Linked DNA regions of Homo sapiens: region 1 is linked to region 2. A link means that fine-mapping ties the variant in region 2 to the expression of a gene that starts in the linked region. Tissue or cell type: monocytes. Region 2 holds a variant in brackets; the other region holds the start of a gene. All regions are shown on one strand. Distances are from middle to middle.

Region 1 (5,896 bases), 95 kb after region 2:
CTCACCTTCTGCCATGAGTAAAACTCCCTGAGGCCTCACCAAAAGCTGAGCAGATGCAAGTGCCATGCTTGTACAGCCTGCAGAAACGTGAGCCAAATAAACCTCTTTTCTTTAAAAATTACCCAGTCTCAGGTATTCCTTTACAGCAACACAAAACAGACTAACAGAATTGCTTTTATGCATTTCTACAAAAAAAAAAGATATTTCACTTGTACTTCATTATTCTGCTGATTAAATTATAGTGGGGCAGGGATGGAGGACTTTCAAGCAGTCAAAGACTTTCCTGGGTACACAGAGCTCATCTCACAACATACTTAAGAAAGCTCCTGATGCACCTGTCACTCCTGTTGCCAGCCCCTGCATCACAAGTGGTGCAAGCAGCGATGAAGTGTTTGTCGTTGTTGTTGTTGTTGTTGTTTACCTTTATAGTTTTCTGCTAAGAAGAAAACATTTTAGCAGCACAGACCAAACTCCAGTAGGTAAAAGCTCTAAGAAGCCTGGATGATGAAGGCCCAGAGAAGTAAATAATGAAGTGGGTTAAAGCTTGAATCTCTACTCCCCTCCCCGCCACTCGCTGAATAATCTCTTTTGGGTGAATTCGTTAACCTTTCTGAGCTCCAGATTCCTCTTCCATATGCAGAAGAACTCCTAGGGTTCTTTATGAAAACTAAATGAGATGCTATTTGTGTAGCAGGATGTAAAAATGACTATGGTCTCAGTTCAGGTATTGCCAAGGACAAAAGACATGTTTCAAAGTGAGCTGTGACACTGAGGCCATCATGCAGGGCTGACAAAAGAAGTGGCACGAAACTGGTTTCCCTCTTAACTGACCATCTTCAGCCCACAAAGAAAGCTGGGTGAGAAGAACAGTTGGTGGTGTAGAGGAGGAATTTTGGAGAAAGCAATAGGAGCACTCCAAGTCCCAATTGCCCACTACCCACCCTCCAAGATTGGCCTCCAAGATGCTGTGTCCCTGGAGGTTGACTGTCACTGAGGGCTGATGTCTGAATCATGTCTGTGAATCCCAAAATACAAGAGAGATGGAGTGATCAGCTGGAGTGGAGAGAACGTGGTAGCTTTGGATTTCCTGGGATAATGAAACGAGCATTTTCCATAAGCCAGAGATGTACTGTGGCCAACCTCTGGGATGTGTAGGTCCTTCTGACAAGGACCACCAGGAGGAATGGAAATTTACCTTCAGAGAAAAGCTGACAGCACTTGTTGTGGCCTCAACTATCCTCCCAAAATTTATATGATGAAGCCCTAACCCCCAGGACCTTAGAATGTGACTGCATTTAGAAGCAGGACCTTTAAAAATGTGATTAAGTTAAAATGAACCCCTTAGGGTAGGCCTTAATCCTCTCTGACTGCTGTCCTTATAAGAAGAGGACATTTGCACATGCCAAGAGACACCAGGAATGCACACACAGAGGAAAGACCATGTGAGAACTCAGTGAGAAGGTGGCCATCCACAAGCCAAGGACAGAGACCTCAGGAGAAAACAAACCTTCCAACACCTTGATCTTGGACTTTTAACCTCCAGAACTGGGAGAAAATTAAGTTCTGTTGTTTAAGCCCGGGGCCCCCAACTCCCGGGCCATGGACCAGTACTGGTCTGTGGTCTGTTAGGAACCAGGCCACACAGCAGGGACAGAGAGAGCACGAAGCTTCATCCATATTTACAGCTGCTCCCAATCATTCACATTACCACCTGAGCTCCACCTCCTGTCAGATCAGCAGCAGCATTAGATTCTCATAGGAGCACAAACCCTATTGTGAACTGCGCATGTGAGGGGTCTAGTTTGCATGCTCCTTATGAGAATCTAATGCCTGATGATCTGTCACTGGTTCCCATCACCCCCATATGGGACTGTCTAATTGGAGGAAAACAAGTTTAGGGCTCCCACTGATTCTACACTGTGGTGAATTGTGTAATTATTTCATTATATATTACAATGTAATAATAATATAAATAAGGTTCTCAATAAATGTAATGCACTTGAATCATCCTGAAACCATCCCTACCCTGGTCTGTGGAAAAAAGTGTCATCTACAAAACTGGTCTCTGGTACCAAAAAAATTGGGGACTGCTGGTTTAAGCCCCTCAGTCTGTGATATTTTGTCATGGCAGTCCCAGCAAACTAATACGGCACTGCTTAGATGCCAGGGAACTAAGGAAGGAGTCTTATTAGGCAACCAGCTTCAAGGGACCAGCAACTCAGAGATCCCCAAAGATGAGAAATAATGGTGCTCTCTGAAGTATCCACAAGATTGTGCCTAGAGAGAAAGAACTAGGTTTACACACCCACCAGAACCTGCCACTGAAATGCCAGCTTGCCACAGCATTAACCAAGTACGGACTTCCAGCTCCTTTCCTGCCTCTTCTCTTTTCCCCTTCCCCCTGCCAGGAGTCAGAATCATCAGTAAGCCAGAGGAGAGAAGGATGGAAGCTTAACGTGGGAAATGAGAAGCCAACCACAGACCCCCTTTCCAAGCTGCAGGCCCCACTGGAGGAGGGAGAAAAGTCTCCACTGGGAACCAAATTCAAAGATCTGGCTGATTCCCTGGGACTGGACATCCCAATTGCTGAATGAGGCTGTGCTGGAACTAAAAGCGACTTAAGAACTTTTGATTCCTGAAGGGGGCCCATAAGAGTTGTGGACCTACCTTAATTTTCATCCCAGGGCAAGGGAAGAGGGAGGACCTGCTGAAAAAAATTAGGGACAATGATAGGCAAAAATAAAGTTTGCTTCCATAATATACCATGAGTCCTGTGTATTTGACGTATGTTCTCTTACATATGAGGCAACTTAGCCTGGTCTCTGGCCAAAAAAGAGATACCACTCATTGAGCAATTCTTACCCTTTCAAATTCCTTCACTGTCGTCATTGAGCAATTCCATCTTCTTCAAGCAAGACAAAAGCTGATGCCAATAGAAAAATCATTTAAAATAAACAAACGAAAAAATTCCTTAAGCTGTCAACTTGGGTGCAGATGTTCTATGAAGCCAGAAACTGAATGTCACCCTCTATACACCATGACCTAGAGAAGCAGAATAACTCCAGACCAGCAGGGCTGGGCGGGTCTAAGATTCCCATACTACTTAAGAGAAAACTGAATTCAAATCCAGGCTCTGCCATTTAACAACTGTGTGACCCCGGGTGAATGACTTAAATTATCCGTACTTCAATTTCCTCATCCATAAAATAGAGATCATAAAGTATCTATCTGATGAAATAGCTGCAAAACAGTTAGAATGCTGCCTGGCACAGGGCAAAGGACTCACAATACACATAGCTATCATCATATATCATTGCCTCTCAAAGTGAAATATTGTGATGACCTTGGTTTATTAGCAGGATGTTGTAAAAAAAAATGCTTTACAAGGGGCATGATGACGAAAAGCGCAGATTCTAGAACCCGACTCCCTGGGTTTGAAAGAAGCAAGAATCTGAGGCATGTTGTATAAGGGTTTGCTATCATTACTATTCATTCAATGAGAGACATACAGTAATAGGTATACATATGCAATACATAGAGAAAGAGCTTAGTACTAGCAGCTATTATTAAGGCAACAGCCACCTCAGTAAATCTACATGGGCCATGAAGACCCTGGTCACCCAGAGATATCAGAGGCACTGAACAGGGCCAGACAGACAGAGGGTATTTTTCTAACTGGGAGGCTGCTGAACTTGACCTCTGTTGCTTTTCATTATTTATTTAACAGCAGATGGTGGCTTTCAAGAAAATCGGATGTCTTGAAGCCAGAAACCCATCCTCCTTGGGCTGGATACTCAGCCATCCCCTGCAACCCCACCCCCTAGCCCCAAGCTCTCATTGTCTCTCTTGTGTTACCTGGTCTGGTTTCTTCTTCCAGGGCAGGTCCCACCTTGCTGGGGAGAGGTGAATGACCATGGCCTTCCAGCCTCCCGAGAAGGGGATGTTCCAACGGGCGCAGAGATCTCTGGGCCTGGCTTGCCACTCACTGACCTGGGGCCTGAAGACTGACAGAGAAGCAGGCAGAAAATATAAAAAGCTGATACCCCCTGCAGGAAATCATTGTTTAGCCCATTCCAGACTAAAAAAACAAGTGCAACATTGGAGAAAGGAGGGTAAAGTGTCATTCGGGGCCATTGTTACAGCGGCTGCTCTGTGTGGTGGGGAAACAAAGCAGGCCTGTGTATGTGAGGACAATGCTGTTGTGTTACTAGCTGCTTCTGTGTTACTCCTGGGGACAGGAGGATGAGAAACGAGGCCACAGTGTCTTCCCTGGTGGACTTCACTCATCATAGTAGCCAGGCCAATCAGAGCTGGGAGAGGAATTTTGGACATTTAGCCCATGGCATTATGTAATAAGGGTCAGGGGACGTGCCTTCAGGTGTGACCACCTGCCTCTTTGTTAGTCTTCTATACATGAGAGATCACAAATGTCCCTCTCCTTTTCTCTTACTTGCTTTCAGAAACTTACCCCAAGTTAGAGCTGAAAAGAATGAGACATATCATTTCTCTAAACACAAATGTCATCCACTTCAATGCCTAACTTTTGTGATGGGACATCTGGCTGGGACTAAACCTCAGCCATGCAGCACGTTAGCAGCAGTTGGCAAGACTAGATGAATATTATAAAGCTTGCACCCACTGAACCCCCATAATGAACCAGACACTAGGTCATGAGCAACCTTGCAAAATGACCTCATTCGCTCCTGACTTCAAATTCTGACTCTGCAACTATTACCCATGGACTGTGAGCAAGTGTTTTCTCTGGGTGTTAGTTTTCCCATCTGTAAACCGGGATTATGATTGGGTTCCTAGGAGGATTAAATGAATTAATATATGCAAAACTCTTAGAACAGTGGCTGGCCCATAAAAGTGATCAAGAACCACAAATCACAAATTAGATGCCCACATTACACCTGAAACTTGCTTGTACTCATGAGGAGATGGTATGGGGATGGCTGGAAAGCCAGGATCCCAAGTGTCTGTATTTAGCCCTGTTACCTACTATGGCCTAAGTTCACCCTGTTAGGTCCCTGAAGGAATTGGGCACTAATAAATATTCTCAAGTATGAGACAGGTGACAAATGTGTGGAGAGGGCCCACTGTGATGCAACAGTGTGTGGCGGGAACTGTGGGGATTTGAAAGCTCACACCAGTCTTCAGAGGGCAGCCAGGGCTCAGCCTCAGCCAAATACTGCAATGCAGAAAGGTGGAAACAGCATGGTTGGGCCTGCACATTTTTAAAGAAAAGCCAGAAGGCTGGATTTTTTATGTCGAGTTTTCCAATTTTGAAACACTGTGGACCAAACACAACATTGTTAATGCAATGTGAGCCCTAGATCATGCAGTTTGTGATGCCTGATCTGGAAATTTCCAGATTTCCAGCATTTCCAAGCCAGTGCAACCCTGCTGACACTCAGAGCTTTTGTCCCCAACTTGCGCTACGGTCTGAGTGTATGCGTCCCCCACAAATTCATATGCTGAAATCTTCACCCCCAGGTGATGGTATTTGGAGGTGGGACCTATGGGGGGTGATTAGGTCATGAGTGTGGAGCCCTCATGAATGGGATTAGTGCCCTTATAAAGAGGCCCAAGAGAGCTCCCTTGCCCACAGCCACCATTTGAGGACACAGTGAGAAGACACCATCTGTGAACCAGGAAACCGTCCTCATCAAACATAGAATCTGCCAATGCCTTGGTCTTGGACTTCCCAGCCTCCAGAACTATGAGCAACACATTTCTGTTGTTGATAAAGCCACCCAGTTTATGGTATTTTGTTATATTAGCCCATATGGACTAAGACGACTGGTGAGCTGATCAGGCCACGTCAAAGCCACAAAGGGGGCATAAAGTCAAAAAGATTGATCAGCCCTTTCCCCCTGCAACCCACCCTCATCTC
Region 2 (8,265 bases):
GTGCACCCAGGCTTGCCTCCTTAGCCCTTTAATAACTCATGACCTTATTTACTGACCCTACATCTCTGTGTAGCAAGTTCCTCAGTTTGAAAGTGTTTTTCTACACATGGTGTGCTTCTAAGTCTTACCTCAGTCCTGTAAGGCAGATGGAGCAGACAGTCTGTCACAAATTAGGAAACTGAGGCCTGAGCAGGCGCCTGACTTGGCCAAGCTTGGAAAGCTGTCAGGTCAGGGCTTCAGCCCCGGCCGGAAGTGTCCCAGACTCACGCCTGGCTCACTGTTGAGCCTGCCAGGAGATTCCTTTTTTCTTTTTTCCTATATATTTCAAAATATTTTCATTATGAAACATACTTTAAAAGTTTATACACACGCAAACATACATTTTAAATAATAATAATAGGCCAGGCATAGTGGCCCACGCCTATAATCCCAGCACTTTGGGAGGCTGAGGCGGGCGGACTGCTTGAGCCCAGGAGGTTGAGACCAGCCTGGGAAATGTAGTGAGACCCTGTCTCTACAAAAAATAAAAATAAAAATAAATTATTCAGGCATGGTAGTGTTTGCCCATATTCTTAGCTACTGAGGAGGCTAAGGCAGGATGATCGCTTGGGCCCAGGAGTTCAAGGTTACAGTGAGCTGTGATCATGTCACTGCACTCCACCCTAGGCAACGAAGCAAAACCCTGTTTCTATTAAAAAAAATAACTAATAAATAAATAATGATGAACTAGTACCTACTTAAGAAATAGAATGTTACCTTGGAAACTCTATGTGCCCCTATTTTTCTGATAATAGCATACTTGGTCATTTATTATAACAAACATAAGCATTCACATAACTCTATAACAAACATAGTGAAAGGCCTCTTTCTAGCCACTTAGCATAGAGCAGCTCTATCCTGTAGAACTTCAAGATGACAGAAATGTTCCGTATTTGTGCTGTCCAATATGGTAGCCACTAGCCATATATGGCTATTGAGAACTTGAAATGTGGCTAGTGCAACTGAGGAACTGAATTTTAATTTTATTTAATTGTTAATAGCTGCACACATGTGTACACACACATTCTTATTAATATCCTAAGAATGAGTAATGTTTTTCTTTCCTTCTAATAACACGTCATGGCCATCTTCCCATATCACTACATATTGATCTACTTTATTATGTTTAATGGTAGCTTGACTATTCCATTTAGGAGATATTACATTTTATTTAACCAGTCCCCTATGGGTAGATATTTAGGGAGTTTCCCCTTTTGTGGTTACTGTAAAGAATGAGCGAATCTGTGGGTCTTCGGGATGACATGACCATGTTTGTAAGGTGCCTTCTCAGCAATGGAACTTCTGAATCAAAGGGTCCAGAAATTCTTAGTTATGACTCCAATACCCACCCCCACCAGAGCCTAGAAATAGCATTGCAGAAAAGATGTTGAGAAGTATAATGCTTATAGCTCTGAAGGATGTACAGCCACAAATGTGTATCACTCAGAGCTCTGGGGGCAGATAAACCCTAAAATCAGTGGTCACTTTGCCATTCACTCACTGTGGTAGGCAGAAAAACATCTCCCCACCCCCCACAAAGATGCATACACTTGTCACCAAAACCTGTGAATATTATCTTATATGGCAAAAGATGCAATTCAGATAAGAATTTTGAGAAGAGAAGCTGGTCCCAGATTATCCAGGTGGGCCATAAACGCAATCACATGTGTCCTTATAAAGGGGATGCAGAAGTTACTAGAGACAGAAGAGGAGAAGACACAGACACGCATAGAGAAGAAGGTGATATGGAGACAGACGCAGGAACTGGAGTAATGCAGCCACCAGGAGCTGAAAGAGAAAAGAAGCAGATTCCCCCCTAGAGGGAATACAGCCCTGCCCCACCTTAATTCTGCACTTATGGCCTCCAGAACCATGAAAGAATAAATTTCTGTTGTTTGAAGCCATGAAGGCTGTGGTCATTTGTTATAGCAGCCACAAGAAACCAATAAACTCACAGTGTGACCTTGGACATCTCTGAGCTGCAGTTTCTACATCTGAAAAGTGAGAATAGGAAGAGTTACCTTGGAGAGCTGTGATGACCAGAAAGATTGTCTATGAAGTACTTTGCATGGTTCCTGGAACTGTATAGGTGCTAGACACAGGTGCAGTGGAGGCTGAGAGAAAAGGCACCCGAGTCAGGCTGGTGTCACCACTTCCTGTGGGGCATTGAGCAGGTGATTTAGGATTTGCAAGATATTGGATGAGATGACTCAAGTAGGGCTTAGAATACTCCTTGAACACAGCAAGTGCTTGATAAATGCTACCTATGGTTTCTTTTATTGCCTCCATTAGTACTACCCCTGTATTAGCCCGTTCAAACTGCTATTACAAAATACAGCAGGCTGCATGGCTTACACAACAGAAATTTGTTTTCTTACAGTTCTGGAGGCTAGAAGTCCACGATCAAGGTGTCAGCAGGGTTGATTTCCTTTGGGGTCTCTCTCCTTGGTTTACAGATGGCTGCCTTGTAGCCATGCCGTCACATGGTCTTTCCTCTGTGCACTCATGCCCTTGATGTTTCTCTTTATGTCCGAATTGCCTCTTCTAGGACACACACACAAAAATGGAAAGACATTCCATGTTCACTGATTGAAAGAATCGATATTGTTAAAATGTCCATACTATCTAAAGCAGTCTACAGATTGAATGCAATTCCAATCAAAATACTAATGACATTCTTCACAGAAATAGAAAAAACATCCTAAAATTTATATGAAACCATGAAAGACCCAGAATTGCCAAAGTCTCCAGAGCAAAAAGAACAAAACTGGAGGAATCACATTACCTGACTTCAAATTATACTACAGAGCTGTAGTAACCAAAACAGCATAGTACTGGCATAAAAAACAGACACACAGATTAGTGGAGCAGAATAGAGAACCTAGAAACAAATCCATACATTTAGAGTGAACTAATTTTTGACAAAGGTGCCAAGAACATACACTGAGGAAAGGACAGTCTCTTTAATAAATGGTGCTGGGAAAACTGGATATTCATATGCAGAAGAATGAAACTAGACCCCTATCTTATATATAAAAATCAAACCAAAATAGGTTAAAGACTTAAACCTAAGACCTTATACTATGAAACTACTAAAAGAAAGCATTAGGGAAACTCTCCAGGACATTGGACTGGGCAAAGATTTCTTGAGTAATACCCCACAAGCACAGGAAACCAAAGCAAAAATGGACAAATGAGATCACATTGAGCTAAAAAGCTTCTGCCCAGCAAAAGATACCAATCAACAAGGTGAAGAGACAACCCACAGAATGGGAGAAAATATTTGCAAACTATCCTTCTGACAAGGGATTAACAACCAGAACATATAAGAAGCTCAAACAACTCTATAGGAAAGAAATATAATAATCTGATTTTAAAATGGCCAAAATACCTGAATAGACATTTCTCAAAAGAAGACCTACAAATGGCAAACAGGTATATGAAAAGATGTGCAACATCATTTGATGTGGTTTGGCTCTGTGTCCCCACCCAAATCTCATGTTGAATTATAATCCCCATGTGTCAGGAGAGGGACCTGGTAGGAGGTGATTGGATCATGGAGGCAGTTTCCTCCATGCTGTTCTCATGAAAGTGAGTGAGTTCTCATGAGATCTGATGGTTTTAAAGTGTGTGGCAGTTCCAGCCTTGCTCTCTGTCTCTCTCTCCTGTCACTATGCTTTCCCTTTGCCTTCCCCCATGATTGTAAGTTTCCTGAGGCCTCCCTAGCCATGCGGAACTGTGAGTCAATTAAAACTCTGCTTTATAAATTACCCAGTCTCAGGTAGTTCTTTACAGCAGTGTGAAAATGGACTAATACATCATTGATCATCAGAGAAATGCAAATCAAAACTACAATGAGATATTATCTCCCCCTAATTAAAATGGCTTTTATGCAAAAGACAGGCAATAGCAAATGCCGGTGAGGATGTGAAGAAAAGGGAACCTTCATATACTGTTGGTGGGAATGTAAATTAGTGCAACCACTATAGAGAACAGTTTGGAGGT[A/T]CCTCAAAAAACAAAAAATAGGGCTACCATATGATTCAGCAATCTCACTGCTGAGTATATACCCAAAAGAAAGGAAATCAGAATACAAAGGAGATATCTGCACTCCCATGTTTATTGCAGCACTATTCAAAATAGCCAAAATCTGTATGCAATCTAAGTGTCCATCAACAGACGAATGGATGAAGAAAATGTGGTACATGTACATAATGGAGTACTCTTCATCCATAAAAAAGAATGAGATCCTGTCATTTGCAACAACATGGGTGGAACTGGATATCATTATGTTAAGTGAAATAAGCCAGCCACAGAACAACAGACTTCACATGTTCTCATTTATTTGTGGTAGCTAAAAATTAAAATGATTGAACTCACGGAGACAGGAAAATGATGGTTACTAGAGACTTGGAAGGGGTAGTTGTGGTGGGAGGAAGGGGGGATGTTAAATGGGTAAAAAAATATAGTTAGGTAAAATGAACAAGATCTTGTACGTGATAGCACAATAGGGTGACTACAGTCAACTATATTTTAAAATAACTAAGAATATAATTGGAATGTTTGTAACACAAAGAAAGGAGAAATGCTTGAAGTGATGGATACCCCATTTACCCTGATGTGATTATTATGCATTGCATGCCTGTACCAAAATATCTCATGTACCCCATAAATATACACACTAAGTACCCACAAAAATTAAAAATTAAAAGAAATATTCTATGCCCAATGTCTCCAAGTTAGAGAAACTAGAATTTTGGTCCATATTTCTTTCGGAAGGACCAATGCCATTTACATTAAGAAAAATCCCCTTCAAAAGCAACTTAAAAGTTTTGGTGCTGAAAGGGTTAACTTCAGTTATCTGGAAAGCCCAGGCCCTGGGTCCGGGAAATTCGGTGGCAGTTACAGGGTTACTGGGAGGTATCACAGGCCTTGCTAACACTCAGCTTATATGAGTTTCATCAAAAACTTCCAAGATGTGTTTCTAGGAGAAAAAGAATGTGTCATCTCACTTTCTCCTCACAGCTGCCACGCCAGGGCATGGAGATGGGGCACAGCCCTGCCTGCTGGGGCAGTGGGTAGAGGAAGATGCTGCACTTAGTGGAAAATGCAAATGAATTCCACTAGGGCTCCAACCTTTGACTCTGAAAAGGGAAGTAGAATCATGGCCCAACAACTTAAAATAAAGAAGTGGGTGGCTTATAATAACTCTGAGGCTTCCAGGAAAAAGCCATTCTGAGTGTAAGTAACAAAGAAGTCAAAGAAAACAGCCATGCCATCTGATGTGCCTGCCTGGAAAACAAGGAGAAACTAGTTACCACGGAAACAAGAGAGATGGCCTCTTTTACACACAACCCTCGGAAGCTTCTGCAGTCAGAAAGCCCAGCGTGCAAATCCTTCCCTGGACCATGAACACAGGAATGACCCAATGTCCTTCCACACCACCAGGATTTAGATAATGATCGGTCAAACTCAACTGATCCATTCTCTAATTGCAGTCAGAATGGTCTTTCTAATGACAACCTTGATGATCATGATAGCACCATTTACTGACTGCCAACTGTGAGGCGGGCACTTGACATGTATTATCTCAGCATTTTAAAAATGAACTTAGAGGGTCTTGACTTTTAGTGAAATGGAATAGAAAATATCGGAGTGCATCACATTTGGAGAAAATAAATTTATTCATGATTACTGGGTTAAAATGCCTCATTTATTTCATACCTCATATGGCACTCAAAACTACATGAAAGCACCTGTTTGGAAGCACCTGTGTCTGATCTTACAACCACCAGAAGGCAGGTGCTATTACCAGCCCCAGCTTACAGAAAGGCAAATGGAGGTACAGAGTGTTTAACTTGTCTCAGGTAACACATCTCATGAGAAACGATGCTGGAACTAGAACCCAACAGTCCATAGCCCACAACGCTTATGTCACTCTTTGCTGCGATGCCTTCAACTGTTCCCCACAAGTCTTAGAATAAATTCACAAACTCCATCCTCACAGGCTCACTTCTCACCACTCTGAAGTCTGCTCATTGGCCTGCCTTCATGTCTTCCACCAGCACCTGCTCTGCCCCACCTCAGGACCCTTCCATGTGCTGTGGCCTCTATGTGAAATATTTCCCACCCAACTCTCCAGGTTCAAACCTGCACCCCCTTTATAGCCCACCTTCACTTGCTCAGAGACACCCTCCTTTCTCCTCACCCCTGATTAGGTTCCACCACCCCAGAGAGCACCCTCCCCACCTCCTTTGTCGTCTTGTCATAATCTGCCTTAATAAATGACTACAGAATTATTTGTTATAGGTTTGTGAGGCCCATAAGGGCAGGCACTGTCTGTCATGTTCTCAGGTACATCCCCAGGGCTTAGCACAGGGCCTAGTGAAGCAGGAATTCCACAGATATTCTCTGAATGAGTAAATGAGCCAGCTGTGTGTGAGGCATCATTGCTGAGAGACAGGAACCATAAGCAGGTGTCGGCTCAGAACATCAACATTTAAAATTACATGGGCATTTTGGGAGGCCAAGGCGGGTGGATCACCTGAGCTCAGGAGTTCGAGACCAGCCTGGCCAACATGGCGAAACCCCCGTCTCTACCAAAAATACAAAACTAGCCAGGTATGGTGGCGGGCGCCTGTAATCCCAGCTACTCAGGGGGCTGAGGCAGGAGAATTGCTTGAACCCAGAAGGCGGAGGTTGCAGTGAGCCGAGGTCGTGCCATTGCACTCCAGCCTGGGTGACAAGAGCAAAACTCTACCAAAAAAAAAAAAAAAAATACATGGGGCTTCACCATGGGTAAACACCATGGTACTGAAATCTGACTAACTTGGCTTCAAATCCAGCCTCTACAGCTTATTAGCTGGATGACCTGCGTATGTTCCTCATAGGCTCTGAATTTCAGTGTCCTTGTCTGTCAAATGGTTGTAATGCTTATGTGCACGTTGTTAAGATGAAAATGAGATAACCTAGATCACGGCCTCGCCCTGAGTAGGGGCGCAAAAAGCTATAGTTAGTATTAATATTTTTATACAACATTGTGTTCTTCACAAAACCCTCTTAGGCTTTGCAAGGTGATGGGTGGTGGGGTTGAGGGAGACAGGCACTTGAACGCATGGCTGGAGGGAGAGCAGTCTGAATTGACTGCTGTGGAAGGAAATGTGACAAGATCTACCGAAGTGACAAAGGCCATACCCTCTGACCAACAAATGTATTTCCAAGAATTTTATTCAAGGCACGTCAAGTGGCTTATGTAACATGGGTTTTTACTGCAGCCTTCTTTATAACAACAATGAGCTGGAAATAAGTGCTCACCAACAGGGAACTGGCCATATGTAAACTATGGTGTCCCATATACTGGAAGGTGATGCAGCTCTAAGAAAGAGCCGACCTTGAGCCGATCGTGGTGGCTTACGCCTGTAATCCCAGCACTTTGGGAGGCCGAGGCAGGCAGATCACGAGGTCAGGAGATCCAGACCATCCTAGCTAACACGGTGAAACCCCGTCTCTACTAAAAATACAAAAAAATCAGCCGGGCTTGGTGGCGGGCGCCTGTAGTCCCAGCTACTCCGGAGGCTGAGGCAGGAGAATGGCGTGAATCCGGGAGGCGGAGCTTGCAGTGAGCCGAGATCGCGCCACTGCATTCCAGCCTGGGCGACAGAGCGAGACTCCGTCTCAAAAAAAAAAAAAAAAAAGAAAGAAAGAGCCGACCTTGAATGAAAGAAAGGCTAAACACAGAGCCACGTGTACATTATGCTACCATCTATGTAAAAAGGATTAAAAAGAGCATTTACCCTTTTCACTGCATGTGCGTAAAATGTCTCTGGAAGGGCAAACCAGCAACAGATAACACTGGTTTCCCCTAGGGCAAGGAGCTGGGTAGCAGCGACACAGTAGGGAAGTCTTTTCTCTATAAGCCCTTTTGGACTTTTTGAATTCAGAAACATGAAAATGCCTTACTTCTTCAAATAAATAAATGTAAAGGCAATAGTGACTCCCCTAACCTCCTTTCCCCAAAAGGAAGACAACAAATAAAGGTCATATGATTTCTTCAAAGTCACCCAGCTGTTAGGAGGAAGTCAGGATTCAGCTTCTGATCCCAAGTTGGGCTCTAGCAATGACAGTTCATTCATTTGACACCAATTTTATTTATTCAGCATTTATTTCACAATAGGAGTGACCCTGTGCAGGAACATATGGGCTAGCAAATAAACACTGGCAGGAAAAGTA

What was found. PIP is the estimated chance that this variant, and not a neighbour inherited with it, causes the effect.
Region 1: PRR5L starts here. The variant in region 2 is fine-mapped to the expression of PRR5L in monocytes (TOPMed, PIP above 0.99). The same link has a PIP of 0.9 or more in monocytes after Pam3CSK4, monocytes after R848, neutrophils and whole blood.

The regions. Positions count from the first base shown.
Region 1 is chr11:36,294,398-36,300,293 of GRCh38, reverse strand. PRR5L (proline rich 5 like) reads right to left here and starts at 4,006. Exons shown (of 9, transcript NM_001160167.2): 1 at 3,856-4,006.
Region 2 is chr11:36,388,164-36,396,428 of GRCh38, reverse strand. The region is part of intron 1 of PRR5L (proline rich 5 like); the gene reads right to left. Among named protein-coding and RNA genes, the nearest start is that of PRR5L, 96 kb to the right of the region's middle. The variant A/T (reference allele first, on the strand shown) is at 4,045.